Linked DNA regions of Homo sapiens. The protein of the gene in region 3 purifies or fractionates together with the protein of the main gene of each other region. This does not show direct contact. Each region holds a gene or a part of one and is shown on either strand. Other genes may lie near its edges.

The links.
Region 1: the proteins of ZFP1 (region 3) and IPO7 purify together in Homo sapiens (co-immunoprecipitation; one large-scale study listed by IntAct). This does not show direct contact.
Region 2: the proteins of ZFP1 (region 3) and PTS purify together in Homo sapiens (affinity purification with mass spectrometry; one large-scale study listed by BioGRID and IntAct). This does not show direct contact.
Region 4: the proteins of ZFP1 (region 3) and NPAT purify together in Homo sapiens (affinity purification with mass spectrometry; one large-scale study listed by BioGRID and IntAct). This does not show direct contact.

The regions. Positions count from the first base shown.
Region 1 is NC_000011.10:9,436,218-9,440,194, reverse strand, and holds part of IPO7 (importin-7), read right to left. Parts: intron 3,925-3,977; coding exon 3,829-3,924; intron 2,442-3,828; coding exon 2,221-2,441; intron 2,116-2,220; coding exon 1,910-2,115; intron 1-1,909. UniProt on the Homo sapiens protein: Functions in nuclear protein import, either by acting as autonomous nuclear transport receptor or as an adapter-like protein in association with the importin-beta subunit KPNB1.
Region 2 is NC_000011.10:112,228,994-112,231,993, reverse strand, and holds part of PTS (6-pyruvoyl tetrahydrobiopterin synthase), read right to left. Parts: intron 1,787-3,000; coding exon 1,764-1,786; intron 1,369-1,763; coding exon 1,312-1,368; intron 1-1,311. UniProt on the Homo sapiens protein: Involved in the biosynthesis of tetrahydrobiopterin, an essential cofactor of aromatic amino acid hydroxylases. Catalyzes the transformation of 7,8-dihydroneopterin triphosphate into 6-pyruvoyl tetrahydropterin.
Region 3 is NC_000016.10:75,154,716-75,159,007, reverse strand, and holds part of ZFP1 (zinc finger protein 1 homolog), read right to left. Parts: intron 1,872-4,292; exon of another isoform or gene 1,797-1,871; intron 1-1,796. UniProt on the Homo sapiens protein: May be involved in transcriptional regulation.
Region 4 is NC_000011.10:108,212,596-108,216,572, forward strand, and holds part of NPAT (protein NPAT), read right to left. Parts: intron 1-3,977. UniProt on the Homo sapiens protein: Required for progression through the G1 and S phases of the cell cycle and for S phase entry. Activates transcription of the histone H2A, histone H2B, histone H3 and histone H4 genes in conjunction with MIZF.

The sequences.
Region 1 (3,977 bases), on a different chromosome or scaffold from region 3:
TACACCCACCAAACCTTTTGTAAGATTTTTTTTAAAAGGCTGGCTAAGTTAGTAAATGATAAAAGACAAAAATAGCAATAGCTATCTTATGTTGAAACCCTTATAATAATTTCTCTTAATATTTTATCAATTTATACACTGATAGTGTACAGTCTTATAGATAAAATGTATTTATCAACATTTAATTAACATAATGTTATAGTGCAAGTATGCTTAGGTTTTAGAATTAATAGATGATAGGATGGATGTCTCCAATAAATTTAGTCAACATTAAGACCATAAATCTTTAGAAGCTTAAAAATAAAATGAAAACCCCATAATTCGCCGGGCGCGGTGGCTCACGCCTGTAATCCCAACACTTTAGGAGGCCAAGGCAGGCAGATCATGAGGTCAGGAGATTGAGACCACCCTGGCCAACACGGTGAAACCCCATCTCTACTAAAAATACAAAAATTAGCCGGTGTGGTGGCACACGCCTGTAATCCCAGCTACTTGGGAGGCTGAGGCAGGAGAATCGCTTGAACCCGGGAGTCGGAGGTTGCAGTGAGCCAAGATTGCCATTGCACTCCAGCTTGGCGACAGAACGAGATTCCGTCTCAACAACAACAACAAAAAAAAACAAACAAAAAAAACCCCCATAAATCTTGTAATAGTAACTATAATGATATGTGTACCTTTGTTAATACTGTTAATTCAGTGCCATCTGCCAAGCACTATTTAAGCGTCAAGGATTCCCTCATGTAATCCCCACAACTTTTTTTAAAGAAATGGGGTTTCACGGCTCAGTGCAGTGGCTCACGCCTGTAATCCCAGCACTTTGGGAGGCCCAGGAGGGTGGATCATCTGAGGTCAGGAGTTCCAGACCAGCCTGGCCAACATGGTGAAATCCTGTCTCTACTAAAAATACAAAAATAAGCTGGGCATGGTGGCACGTGCCTATAATCCCAGCTATCTGGGGGGCTGAGGCAGGAGAATTGCTTGAACCCGGGAGGCAGATGTTGCAGTGAGCCAAGATCGCGCTGTTGCACTCCAGCCTGGGCAACAGGAGCAAAACTCCGTCTCAAAGGAAAAAAAGCCAAAAAACAAAAAACTGGGGTTTCACTATGTTACCCAGGCTGGAATCAAACTCCTGGGCTCAAGCGAATCTGATACCTCAGACTTCCAAGTAGCTGGGACTATAGGCTCATGCCACCATATAAAAAAGGGAACTATAATCTCTCGCTCTTAAGTGGACTCAGCACTTCGTGTCAACTCTATTATTATATACATAATTATTTGGCTTTGTAATACTTTCCCACAGTCGGATAGAAAACTTTTGAAGAACTGCATGACATCTCATTCATCTTTGTATCTACAGTGCTGAGAATGTGTAAAATAAACAAATCTTTGTTGGTTGCATACTATAATGGTTTGAACTGTTCTACATGTTGGTAATACAGCTGAAGTTCCTGATTACATCACTCTAGTGAGAAGAAAGGAAGTCTTTTCTGTGAATGAAAGCATTTGGGTATGATCCCACATTTATTTGGGAGAAGGGCTAGTGATATATATATATATTTTTTTTTAATCTGAGATGGAGTCTCGTTCTGTTACCCAGGCTGGAGTGCAGTGATGCAATCTTGGCTCACTGCAACCTCCGCCTCATGGGTTCAAGCGATTCTCCTGCCTCAGCCTCCCAAGTAGCTGGGACTACAAGTGCCCACCACTACACCCAGCTAATTTTTGTATTTTTAGTAGAGGTGGGGTTTCACCATACTGGCCAGGCTGGTCTCGAACTCCTGACCGTGTGATCCACCTGCCTCAGCCTCCCAAAGTGCTGGGATTACAGGCCTGAGCCACTGCGCCCGGCCCAGTGCGGTAATATTTCTAAGTAGATAAGTTTTGTCTTCTTCCATTGAAAATCCCTTACCGGTTTCATCATCATCTTCAGCTTCATCATCATCATCACTGTCATTCTCATGTTCTGCATGGCAGGCATATGCTCTTTTCAATCCGTTAAATAAAAGGATAAAAGCCGGCAAAATCTGTCCAGAAACCTGATTTAAAACTTGGGGTATCTGTTCCATATCAATAAGAGCACAGAGTCCGAGAACACACATCTTTCTGTCATGAAGCCTAAAAAAAAAAAAAAAAAAAAAAAAAAAAAAAACTGTTTTCTTTTCTTAAATAAGCAGAGTTCCTCCCAAAGCAAATGTAGTAAAATTGCAATACATCACTTACCCCAAGAAACAGTCAACATCATTAAGCCACTGTGTAATAAAATGATTTGTAACTGGTTCAACATTATTAGGGAAGCGAAGATTTTCTAAGGTATTGAGTAGTAGGTGTGGATTATAATACAAAGCTGCAATTGCAACTTGCAGACACATAGTTCGAAGTTCACTTGTCTTAACCTCTCTTGTCAGTCTTTCTAAGGCTGCTTCCACGAATAAGGGAATGCACTACAAAAAAAGATAGCAAGATATTCTAAGACTATAATTAATAGCATGCAAACATTCTAAAAATATTAACTTCTTTGTTGCCTCAATTAACCCTATTGTAGCATTAGATGACCAATATTTACTGCTGAGGCACTGCACTGGGAAATCTAATTTTAGAGAAAGTCTAGTAGTCTTCATGGAGCTATTAAAAGCTCACGACGGGCCGGGAGTGGTGGCTCACGCCTGTAATCCCAGCACTTTGGGAGGCTGAGGCAGGCGGATCACGAGGTCAGGAGATCAAGACCATCCTGGCTAACACAGTGAAACCCCGTCTCTACTAAAAATACAAAAAATTAGCCAGGCGTGGTGGCGGGTGCCTGTAGTCCCAGCTACTTGGGAGGCTGAGGAAGGAGAATGGCGTGAACCTGGGAGGCAGAGGCAGTGAGCTGAGATCGCGCCACTGCACTCCAGCCTGAGCGACAGAGCGAGACTCTGTCTCAAAAAAATATATGAAATAAATAAAAAATAAATAAAAGCTCACGATGATATCAATCATGGCTTCACAAGTTCCTATTAAAATTGACCGTGGGCCGGGTGACGTGGCTCATGCCTGCGATCCCAGCACTTTTGGGAGTCTGAGGTGGGCAGAACACTTGAGGTCAGGAGTTTGAGACCAGCCTGGCCAAAATGGCGAAACTCCTTCTCTACTAAAAATATAAAAAATTAGCCAGGTGTGGTGGCAGGCACCTATAATCCCATCTACTCAGGAGGCAGAGGCAGAGAACTGCTTGCACCTGGGAGGCAGAGGTTGCAGTGAGCTGAGATTGCGCGACTGCACTCCAGCCTAGGCGACAGGGCGAGACAGCGTCTCAAAAAAAAAAAAAAAAAAAAAAAAAAAAAAAAAAATATATATATATATATATATATATATAAAATCAGGCGGTTGTGGTGGTGTATACCTGTAATCCCAGCTACTTGGGAGGCTGAGGCAGGAGAACTGCTTGAATCTGGTTGCAGTCAGCAGAGAATGTGCCACTGCACTCCAGTCTGGGCAACAGAGCAAGACTCTCACTCAAAAAAAACAAAAAACAAAAAACAAACAAAACAAAACAAACAAACAAAAAAACTGACCATGGATATTTAATTACTAAAGCTATCCAAAAAATCTTAAGCAAAAGTTTACCTTTCATGATAACAAAGTAGCCATAAAACTTAGTCCAATTCCTGTACATTAAACATATGATCATTATTATATATTAGTTACATTTTGAACTAAAAATATTAGTTGTCTAGATGTCTCAATAAACAAAAACATACAGAATATGCAACAAATGCCAAAAAATGAAGAAAGAAAGTGGAAGGAAAAGATTACCCCTCTGAACTACAAATCATTATTAGCTTCACTGACCTGGTCAATGCCACGCCCTTTGCACTGCAGAATGATGACCTCTAACAATTTTGCTGCATGACACTCTGCATCTTCTCCTGCAACTCCTGTAAGAACCTGATCAAAACAGAATATAAATTGCAGTAAGGCTTTATCCTTTAAATCAGGTA
Region 2 (3,000 bases), on a different chromosome or scaffold from region 3:
CTTGTCTCTTTTCTTTCTTTTCTTTTCTTTTCTCTTTTTCTTTTTCTTTCTTTCCCCTCCCCTCTCCTCCCCTGTCCTCCCCTCCCCCTCCTCTTCTCCTGTCTCTGTCTCCCTCTCTCTCTCTCTCCGCCTGCCCCCCAACCCCTGCCCCATAAATGCATGCTGGCCCTATCTGTATAACTTTCCTAAAGTATTTTGAGCATAGTGCTGTTTCTTCATTCACTCATTCTTCTACTCATTTATTAAATCAACAGTTATTTAATAATATTCTTCACCTCCTAGAAAAAGTAATGTATACACTCTGTGGGCTACATCTCATTCATCTTTGTACACTTAGCTCAAAAACTGATGCGAAGTAGAGAAATTTGTTGAATATATGAATAAGTAATGTGAAAGAAGTAATCATTACTAATAACATCATTTTAATCAAGCAAATGTCAAATCTCAGAACAAACCTAAGCTGCAAGTGAAATGACAGCATAATAAAACAGCTGGAAGGAAAGAAATCTACTCCCAGCTTTGCAAATGACTAGCCATATGACCTGGGGCAAGTCAGTTAACTGTTCAGCATCTCTCAATCTTAATCTATGGGTTGAAGAAGTTGGTCTGAATAATCTCCAAAGTCTCTTACAGTGCAAGAATTCTATAATGACACAATCAGTTAAGTTCTTCATTGAACACCTTGTGTGTTATCTCTATGAGGTACTGCTCTGGTGAGTTTATAATAAAGCTAGAATGAACAACACAGTGTGGTGTCTAAATCTATGATCAAAGGTACAAGGAATATTCAGAGAGGGAAGAGAAAGCTCCAAGGAGAAGGCCAGGAGCAGTAGCTCATGCCTGTAATTCCAGCACTTTGGGAGGTCAAGGCAGGAGGTGTCTGAGACCAGCCTGAACAACATAGTGAGACCCCTACCTCTACCAAAAAGAAAAGTTTGCATTGGTTCTGTGCCTATTTAAAAAAAAAAAAAAAAAGAAAGACAGTAAGTCTCAAGGAGAAAGCTATGTCTTAAAAGAAATGGAGAATTTGTTAACTGAAGGAAATCAGGATATTCCAACAAGGAATACAAGGTGAGCATGTTATATTTCCTCCCATCGCTGTAACACAACTGTGACTAATTTCCGTTAAGTCACCAAAACACCTTTAGAGGCCATGCGAGCAGTTCTTCCAACTATTCCCCAACACCCACATCCAGTTCTATTCACAAAGTCATGGAACCTTAGGAGATAACTGGTTGGGGAGGTAGATAGGGGGCCACCAAATATTACAGTTAGGGAATAGCACATAATAAGCACCCAACATGCCATTACCTCCATATATTTTTTGAGATCAGCCAGATTCATAACCATTCCCGTAGCAGGGTCAATCTAAAGAATAAACAAAGGTGAATATTACTGTGATAGGCTCTCCATATTAAACGGCTGGCAAATTATTAAAGGCAGTACAATGTGCAGAGACTGTGCCCACATTTGCACATTTGCCTTCATCCCAGAGATAATCATTGACCTCAGCATGGAAGCACCATGTACTTCAAGCATCCTTTTCATTGTATAGCCCTTCTACCTGTCCACATACAGCATATTAAAGACAACACTTTGGTAGAGGAGAGGCCTGGAATGGCGGCAGCTCACCACACACACATATACAAGGGCCAACAATGAAGCAATACTGACTGGAACAGTTTTCAACACAGAATCCACCACACTGGCTGAAAGAGAGCCCAGCAATCTGCAAAAACCACACAAATATTTTCTGCACATACCTCTCCATGTACTGTCACCACAACTATGGAAAGAAAACAAAATACAAAAAAAACAGCATGACTTTCAACAGATCAACATCCAAGCACAAGTTAGCAACATACAAGCACAAGTTGGCAACATAAATTATTAGATCTGTCCCCAAAAGCTATACTTAAATATTTACCCCAAAACATCTGTTATTTTAGTTAAGATTTTTTTTTTAGCAACCAAAGCAAGACACAATCGAGACAAAGGAGCTTAGTAGGAATGTTGGCTAAGCAGAGGCACTCGGCCAAGGCTGAAAAGGGTGTAAATTCTGCTTATGTTAATGCACTAGGGAGCATCAAGATGCTGCTCAGTCTCTGCCTGTAGAAGTAGAAAATGTCTTTCAGGTGTCCAGCTACACAGCAAGCTGGTCCAATACTGAGCAGTACCTTTCTGAACAAGCAATACTACTGGGCCTTAAATTCTTGTCCCCTTACTCACATGAATGTATACAAAGTCTAAAGTAATGCTTTGTAAATTAAAAAGTGCTTGTGAGAAGCATTTGAAAAATCTTGGCCAGGCGTGGTGGCTCAAGCCTGTAATCCCAGCACTTCGGGAGGCCGAGGCGGGCAGATCACCTGAGGTCTGGAGTTTGAGAGCAGCCTGGCCAACATGGTGAAACCCCATCTCTACTAAAAATACAAAAATTAGCCAGGCATAGTGGCGGGCGCCTGTAATCTCAGCTACTCGGGAGGCTGAGGCTGGAGAATCGCTCGAACCTGGGAGGTGGAGGTTGTAGTGACGGGAGATCACACCATTCCAGCCTGGGCAAAAAGAGTGGAACTCCATCTCAAAAAAAAAAACAACAACAACAAAAAAAAACTTTATCAGTGCTTTACACATTAATAACTTTTATGAATTTATGTATTTTAGTTCTGTACAAATACCATTAGATATTACATGTAAGTGAGTACACTGAGACTGAGATACCATAGATTAAGGAAGAGGCTGTAGCTAAACCAGTAATCCTAATCTCCTGACACCTTGTCTGTTTTTTTTTATGCCACCACACCACATACTGTTTTATACTCTACGACTTATGTACCTGTTTTTTAAGGCAGGCTGTACCTCAAAGAATCAAGTCTCTTATCCTTGAACAAATTACCTACTTTCTTCGAACACTGCTGGCAAAGCTTTAGACCAAACCTATTTTTCTGCCATACATTACATTCCTAGGCAACATTCCCCTTTTGTCAGTCATTATTTACTCAA
Region 3 (4,292 bases):
GGAGGATCACTTGAGCCTGGGAGGCAGAGGTTGCAGTGAATGGAGATCAAGCCACTGCACTCTAGTCTGGGCAAGACTCTGTCTCAAAAAAAAAAAAAAAAAGACAAGACAAAAACAATCAAGAGATAAACAACCCAAAAGGAGCAGATGTAGACAGTACCTATATATTAGTTTTAACCCATAAACACTTCAGACGAACTGTAAAGTAATATGCAAAATATTAAAGAGGTGGTCAGTTAAGATTATAAGCTGTAATCTCTACAGCAACCACTTAAAAAAAAGATAAAAGGGAAAATAGGAACACACAGGACAACTAAAAATAAATAGCAAAATGACACACTGAAATTCACCTATGCCTGTAAAAAAAAAAAAAAAATCACAAATAAAATAATAAACCAATTAAAAGACAGAAATAGGCCAGGCATGGTGGCTCACGCCTATAATCCCAGCCCTTTGGGAGGCAAGATCTCATCACGACAAAAAAAATAAAAAAAATTAAAATTAAAATTAACTGTCACAGGCCTGTAGTCCCAGCTACTCAGGAGGCTGACGTGGGAGAACTGCTTGAGGCTGCAATGAGCCAAGATCACACCACTTCACTCCAGCACTGCAGCCTGGGTGAGAAAGAGAGATCCTGTCTCAAAAAATAAAAAAAATTAAAAAAAAAAAAAAATAGACAGAAATAGGCTGGATCAAGGAACTTGAGGCTGCAGTGAGCTGTGTTCATGCCACTAAATTCCACCCTGGGCAACAGAGGAAGACCCTGTCTCAAAAAAAGAAAAAAGAAACAGGCTGGATCAAAACCACGACCAAACTACAAGCTATTTAGGGGAAATATACTATAAACATATGAACATAAATAGGTTGAAGCAAAAATAAAATATATACCATAACACTAATCATAAAAAAAAGGAGGTATGGGCCAGGCATGGTGGTTCACATTTGTAATCCCAGAACTTTGGGAGGCTGAGGTAGACAGATCTCGTAAGCCTAGGGGTTTGAGACCAGCCTGGGCAACCTGGCGAGATCCCATCTCTACCAAAAACAAAACTACAAAAATTGCCTGAGCATGGTGGTACACGCCTGTAGTTCCAAATACTGGGAGGATCACTTGAACTCAGGAGGCAAAGACTGCAGTGAGTGAAGATCAAGCCACTGCACTCCAGCCTGGGTAACAGAGCCAGATCCGGTCTCAAAACAAACCAACCAACCAACCCAGAAGAGGTAGGTATGGCTTTATTTTTATCAGAAAAGCAGTATTATCAGGGATAAAGAGGGGCATTTCAAAATGATAAAAGGATAAGTCCATCAGGAAGACAGAATCATATGTGTGCACACATCCATAACCATATATGCAATGACTAACACAGCTTCAAATTATATCAAGCCTGACAGAACTAAACTGAGGAATGGACAAATCCACATTCATACCTAGCTATCAATCAAATACCAGAACAGAATGAAGGCCAGGTGCAGTGGCTCTCACCTGTAATCCTAGCATTTTGGGAGGCTGAGGAGGGCGTATCACTTGAGGCCAGGAGTTCAAGACCAGCCTGGCCAACAGGGTGAAATCCCGTCTCTACTAAAAATACAAAAATTCACCGTGTGTAGTGGCACACACCTGTAATCACAGCTACTTAGGAGGCTGAGGCGGGAGAATTGCTTGAACCCTGTGGTAGAGATTGCAGTGAGCCAAGATCACACCACTGCACCCCAGCCTGGGAGACAGAGTGAGACTGTCTCAAAAAAAAAAAAAAAAAAAAGACATTTTCAGAAATTCAGCCTAAAAAACATACCTCTCACAAACCCTTTCTCAAGAAGCTGCTGAAGCATGTACTTCAATAAAACAACAGTAATCCAAAAAAGAGACGCTGCAAACAAAAGATCAACATGAGAGAGAGGAAGGAAATCCCTAGGAGTGGGAAGGAGACAGCGGTGGGAGATGGTGAAATAGCACTGATTCTCTACTAACACCACATTACTTGTAGTTACGGACTGGAACACAGTGATTCAAAAGCTGGCATTCTGAGGGTTGTCATCAACAAGATACCTGCGGCCACTGTACCAACTTTTTATTAACCTGAGGGCAGAATGCCTGGGTGAGCCTGGCCCAGATTCTTAACTGTACTTGGTTTGGCTTATCTTGAACATGTTCTGATGACATCTGTCTTTCCCCTCCATACCAGACTGCCTTGGATCAGATGAGAACAGTCATTTCATGTCACAGAAGTGTTCTGCTTTAATCTACTCCTGAGTGGTGGCTATTCACCAGTGAACCAAGATGCAGAAAATGCATAGCATCCCACTCCCTCTAATTATATTCGTACCAAAAATTCAATACCTAGTCTACACTCTGACCCTGTCACACGGCCCAACTATGTTGAGCCCCATGCTTCTCATGACCTTGCCAATAACCTCCCCAAACGGGACTTCTGTAAACTCTCAGGAAAGTCAAAGCCAGGCTATACCTGGAAATTCAATTCAGCTCATCTTTTCCTGGGAGGCTTTGTCCAACAGTAGCAAAATTTCTTTTCTTTTCTTTTCTTTTTCTGAGACAGAGTCTTACTCTGTTGCCCAGGCTGGAGTGCAGTAGCATGATCTCGGCTCACTGCAGCCTCCACCTCCTGGGTTCAAGCGATTCTCCTGCCTTAGCCTCCGAAGTAGCTGGGATTACAGGCGCATGCTACCACGCCCGGCTAATTTTTTTTGTATTTTTAGTAAAGACAGGGTTTCGCCATGTTGGCCAGGCTGGTCTCGATCTCCTGACCTCAAGTGATCCACCAACCTCGGCCTCCCAAAGTGCTAGGATTACCGGCGTGACCCACCACACCTGGCCCCAACAGTAGCCAAATTTCTAGACACAGCTGCTTTACACTGCTAAATTTGCTTGGTGTTGCCACATTGCTCCCAGTAAGGCTGTATCATTCTATACTATCTCCAGCAATACATGAGTGGTTTCATTTCTTCTTAGCTAACACTAGCTAGTGTAATTTAAAAAATAAATGATAACCTAAGTCTTGGCAAAGGGCCCACGGATGCATCTTTTAGATCTCACATGTCTGAAAGGAAAAAAAAACCTCCACCAATTAGACAAAAGATTATGCAAACCAAGGCAATATTAATTCCAGTTATAGTTTGTTAACTAAATTTTATATTAAGACTATAAGTGATATTAATCCCAGTTATAGTTTATCAACTGAATATTACATTAAGAATATATCTAAGTGGTAAAGTCTTTAAGGAAAGCAAGGGAACTATTAAGAAAAATGTCAAGATAGTGGCTATCTACTAGGTGGATTCAATCAGAAAATTTGTCATAAAGAACAGATAATGTTCTATTTCTTAACTTGGGTGCCTACATGGGCACCCATTTTATTATTATTCTTTAATGCATATATATTTGTTATATATGTTGTTATAACACATTTAAAGAGTGTTATGTCTTAATACACTATTCTGTACATGTGTCACACAATTAAAGATTAGGAAAAAAAAGAATGAGCAACCTCTATGCTCTGATATGGAAATACTTCAAAGATATGTTACTGAATGATTTAAAAAACACATAATTGGGCTGAGCACGGTGGCTCACACCTGTAATGCCAGCACTTTAGGAGACTGAGGTGGACATGGATTGCTTGAGCTCAGGAGTTCAAGATGAGCCTGAGCGACAGGGCAAAACTCCATCTCTACAAAAAAATACAAAAAATTAGGTAAGCATGGCGGCATGTGCCTGTAGTCCCAGCTACTTGCGGGGATTTAGGCAGGAGGACTGCTTGAGTCCAGCAAGTCGAGGCTGCAGTAAACCGTGTTCACATCACTGCACTCCCACTTAGGTGACAGAGCGAGACCCTGTCTCAAAAACAAAACAAAATCAAATCACATAATTAAGAGATTGAAACACAAACCATAACCAGGCACAGTGACTTACGCTTGTAATCAGCATTTTGGGAGGCCAAGGTGGGTGGATCACTTGAGCCCAGGAGTTCGAGACCAGCCTGACCAACATGGTGAAACCCCATCTCTACTAAAAATACAAAAATTAGCTGGGCTATGGTGGTGCGCACCTGTAATCCCAGCTACTCGGGAGGCTGAGGCAGGAGAATCACTTGAACCTGGGAAGGGGAGGTTGCACTGAGCCAAGATCACGCCACTACATTCCAGCCTGTGTGACAGAGCAAGACTCCATCTCAAAAAAAATAAAAATTAAAAACATAAATAAATAAAATGGCTAAAATCCAGAACACTGACAACACAAAATGCTGGTGAGGATGCAGGGCCGTAGAAACTCT
Region 4 (3,977 bases), on a different chromosome or scaffold from region 3:
GTCTTATATAGAAAATCCTAAGGAAGCCATAAAAAACAACAACAACAACAACAAAAAAACTATTAGAGGCCAGGCACCACGGCTCATACCTATAATCCCAGCACTCTGGGAGGCCAAGGCAGGCAGATTGCCTGAGGTCAGGAGTTCGAGACCAGTCTGGCCAACATGGTGAAACCCCGTCTCTACTAAAAATACAAAAAAATGAGCCAGGCATGGTGGTGTCCACCTTAATCCCAGCTGCTAGGGAGGCTGAGGCAGGGGAATCACTTGAACCAGGGAGGTGGAGGTTGCAATGAGCCGAGATGGTGCCATTGCACTCCAGCCTGGGCAACAGAGCAAGACTCTGTCTCAAAAAAAAAAAAAAAAAAAAAAAAAAAGGAGTTAAGAAACCTCCCTGGGCGGGGCATGGTGGCTCATGCCTATAATCCAGCACTTTGGGAGGCCAAGGCCAGCAAATCACCTGAGGTCGGGAGTTCGAGACCAGCCTGACCAACATGGAGAAACCCTGGTGCTACTAAAAATACAAAGTTAGCTGGGCAAGGTGATGCATGCCTGTAATCCCAGCTATTCCAGAGGCTGAGGCAGGAGAATCGCTTGAACCCGGGAGGCAGAGGTTGTGGTGAGCCAAGATTGCGCCATTGCACTCCAGCCTGGGCAACAAGAGCGAAACTCTGTCCCAAAAACAAAACGAAACAAAACAAAAACTATTAGAGCTAATAAATGACTTCGACAAGGTTGCAGGATACACAGTGAATATATAAAAGTCAATAAATCTCAATGAACTACCAAAAATTAAGAATGCAATGCTAGTTACAATAGCATCAAAAGAAATAAAATACTTAGGAATAAGTTTAACAAAAGTAAAGGACTTGCATACTAAAAACTGGAAAACGTCACTGGAGGAAATTAAAGACCTAAATCCACGCAAAGACATACTGTGTTCATGGACTGAAAGGTTCAATATTGTTAAAAACTCAATACTCCCAAAATTCACCGATACATTCAACACAATTCCTATCATAATCTCAACTGCCTTTTGTGCAGAAATTGACAAACATCCTAAAACTCCTAAGGTAATACAAGGGGGCTGGAATAGCCAAAATAATCTTGAAAATGAAGAAAAAGTTGAAGCACTTACACTTACCAATTTCAAAACTTACTGTAAAGCTACAGTAATCCAGACGATGTACGGGCATGAGGTTAGACACAGAAATTAGTGGAACAAAATAAAAAATCCAGACCTTTCTTATTTATCTAGTCAACTCTGAAGCATGGAATCCAGACATTTATGGTCAGTTTATTTTTTTTCAGAGACAGAGTCTTGCTCTGTCACCCAGGCTGAAGTAGAGTGGCTCAATCATAGCTCACTATAACCTTGAACTCCTGGGCTGAAGTGATCCTCCCACTTCAGCCAACCCAGTAGCTAGGACTAGAGGCATGTACCACCAAATAAATGCCCAGCTAATTACTTACTTATTGGTACAGATGGGGTGTCTCAGTATGCTGCCCAGGCTGGTCTCGCTCCCCTGGCTTCAAGCAATCCTCCTGCCTTGGCCTCCCAAAGTGTTGGGATTACAGGGTGAGCCATTACAGCTGGCCTGCATTTTTCATAACAGTGTCCATTAATGAATGGACAAACAAAATATGGCATATTCATATAATGAAATATTCAGCTATAAAAAGGAATGAAGTACTAATACCTGCTACAACATGGAATAAGGCTGAAAACATTATGCTATGTGAAAGTCAGACACAAAAAGCGAAATATTCTATTTCATTTATGTGCAATGTCCAGGCAAGGCACATGTATAGATACAGAAAGTAGATTTGTGGTTGGCAGAGGACGGGGCAAGGGGGAATTGGAAGTGACTTAATAGTATAAGGATTCTCTTTGGAGTGATGGAAATATTGAAATTACTGGTGATATCTGCACATTATGAATCCATAAATATCCTGGATTTTCATACCCTGAAAAACAACGAAGTTTACATTTTGTAGTATGTGCATCATATCTCAATAAAAAAATATGATTCCAATTTTTTTTTTTTTTTTTTGAGATGGAGTCCCGCTCTTGTCACCTGTGCTGGAGTGCAATGATGCAATCTCGGCTCACTGCAACCTCTGCCTCCCAGGTTCAAGCGATTCTCCTGCCTCAGCCTCCCAAGTAGCTGGGATTACAGACGCCTGCCACCATGCCTGGCTAATTTTTATATTTTTAGTAGAGATGGGGTTTTGCCATGTTGGCCAGGCTGGTCTGGAACTCCTGACCTCAGGTGATTTGCCCGCCTCGGCCTCCCAAAGTGCTGGGATTACACGCGTGAGCCACTGCACCCGGCCTATGATTTCAAATTTTTAATGTGTCGTATGAGGTTCTACTTGCTTTGTACCCTAATTTCCTCTTCAGCCTATGTTTTACCATTCCATCGCTTCCAGCCAAACTGGTCTTTCAGTCCCACAGATACACATTGATTATATTTCAAGGCCATTGTTTATTCTATTTCCTTTGCTTGGGCAGCTAATCTTTTCTTAACCTAGCTATCTTCAACTCATTCTTCACAGTTTAGTATAATTACTCCCTATTCCCTACTATTAAATATTCCCTTATAGGTATTACTTAATACTTATAAGTATTCCCTTATATTTTCCTTTGAAGTACACTTATCTCAGTGCTGGCATAATAGTCAGTAAGTATTTGTTAGCTACTGAAATTATAAGTGGGAGCTAAAGGATGAGAACACACGGGCACATAAAGGGAACAACACACACTGGGGCCTATTGGAGGTGAAGGGTGGGAGGAGGTAGAGGATCAGGAAAAATAACTAATGGGTTCTAGGCTTAACACCTGGGTGATGAAATAATACGTACAACAAACCCCTATGACACAAGTTTACCTATATAACAAACCTGCACATGTACCCCTGAATTTAAAAGATAAAAAAAAGAAATTATGTCTAACGTCTCTTCCAACTTTATAACGTTCTACTCTCTTCACCTGGAACTGTATCGTTAACCAGGTCCAACAGGTGAAAAACCTAATAAGGTTGCCTACAAAGTCATTATACACTAAGGTTTTAAAAAGGAAAGGGCAAGGATATGGTCATCTCGTTACAGGCAATGCCCTAGCTGTGATTTGGGAATCAACTCACCACTCTCTACTTGTTGATGAATCTGTTTTCCAACCTCTTGCTAACTAATAAGAAGAAACAAACAAATATACAAATCAAAAACCAAAGGCATTGTGTTTTGGAGAAAGCATTTGGATATCTGAAGAAAGCTTTATCTCAGATAACATGACTTCAATCTTCCTATCATTGAACATCAAACCACAGATGTGAAATTAATTAGATCAAAGATACACTGCAATGTTTTCTTCTCTTTTTGTGAAAACTAGCTGGCTGAAAAGTAATTTTTATGATGGCTGGCTTTCCGACCGTTATAATATTTGGAATAGGTGAGTTAGCTGTTACTAGCTTTTTGTAAACACAAAAATTTAAAACTTCTACAGACTATTAGAATCACCTTAAAATTAGGACAGTTGGAGCTTTTTCCTCATATGCTTCAAGATTTAGATTGAACACCTCAAATATACTTCCTTTTCATGGTGGAGTTTCAAGTACTTATCACCCTAGATGCCTTCAGTCACTTGGGGACTTCTGATAGACGGTGGTATTAAAATCTACTATAGATTTGCAGTAGATTTTTATCTATCTTAAAGTAGATTTGCTTTCCCCTAGACCATGCATTCTCAAAAGGAGTCATACTGCCCTAAGAGGCTGAAAATTGGTTCTGGGGCAGGGAGGAATGAAGAAAATCTCCCTCTTTTTATGCATAAATCACAGATACACATGATATATAAACATATACAATATATTCATGACACTAAAACATTAAACTTTCGTGTGGGGAGGAGAGGAGGGTCAGGGAAAAAAAAAAAGCCTAAGAAGATTCCTTAAAGTTGTGTAATGAAATAAAGGTTG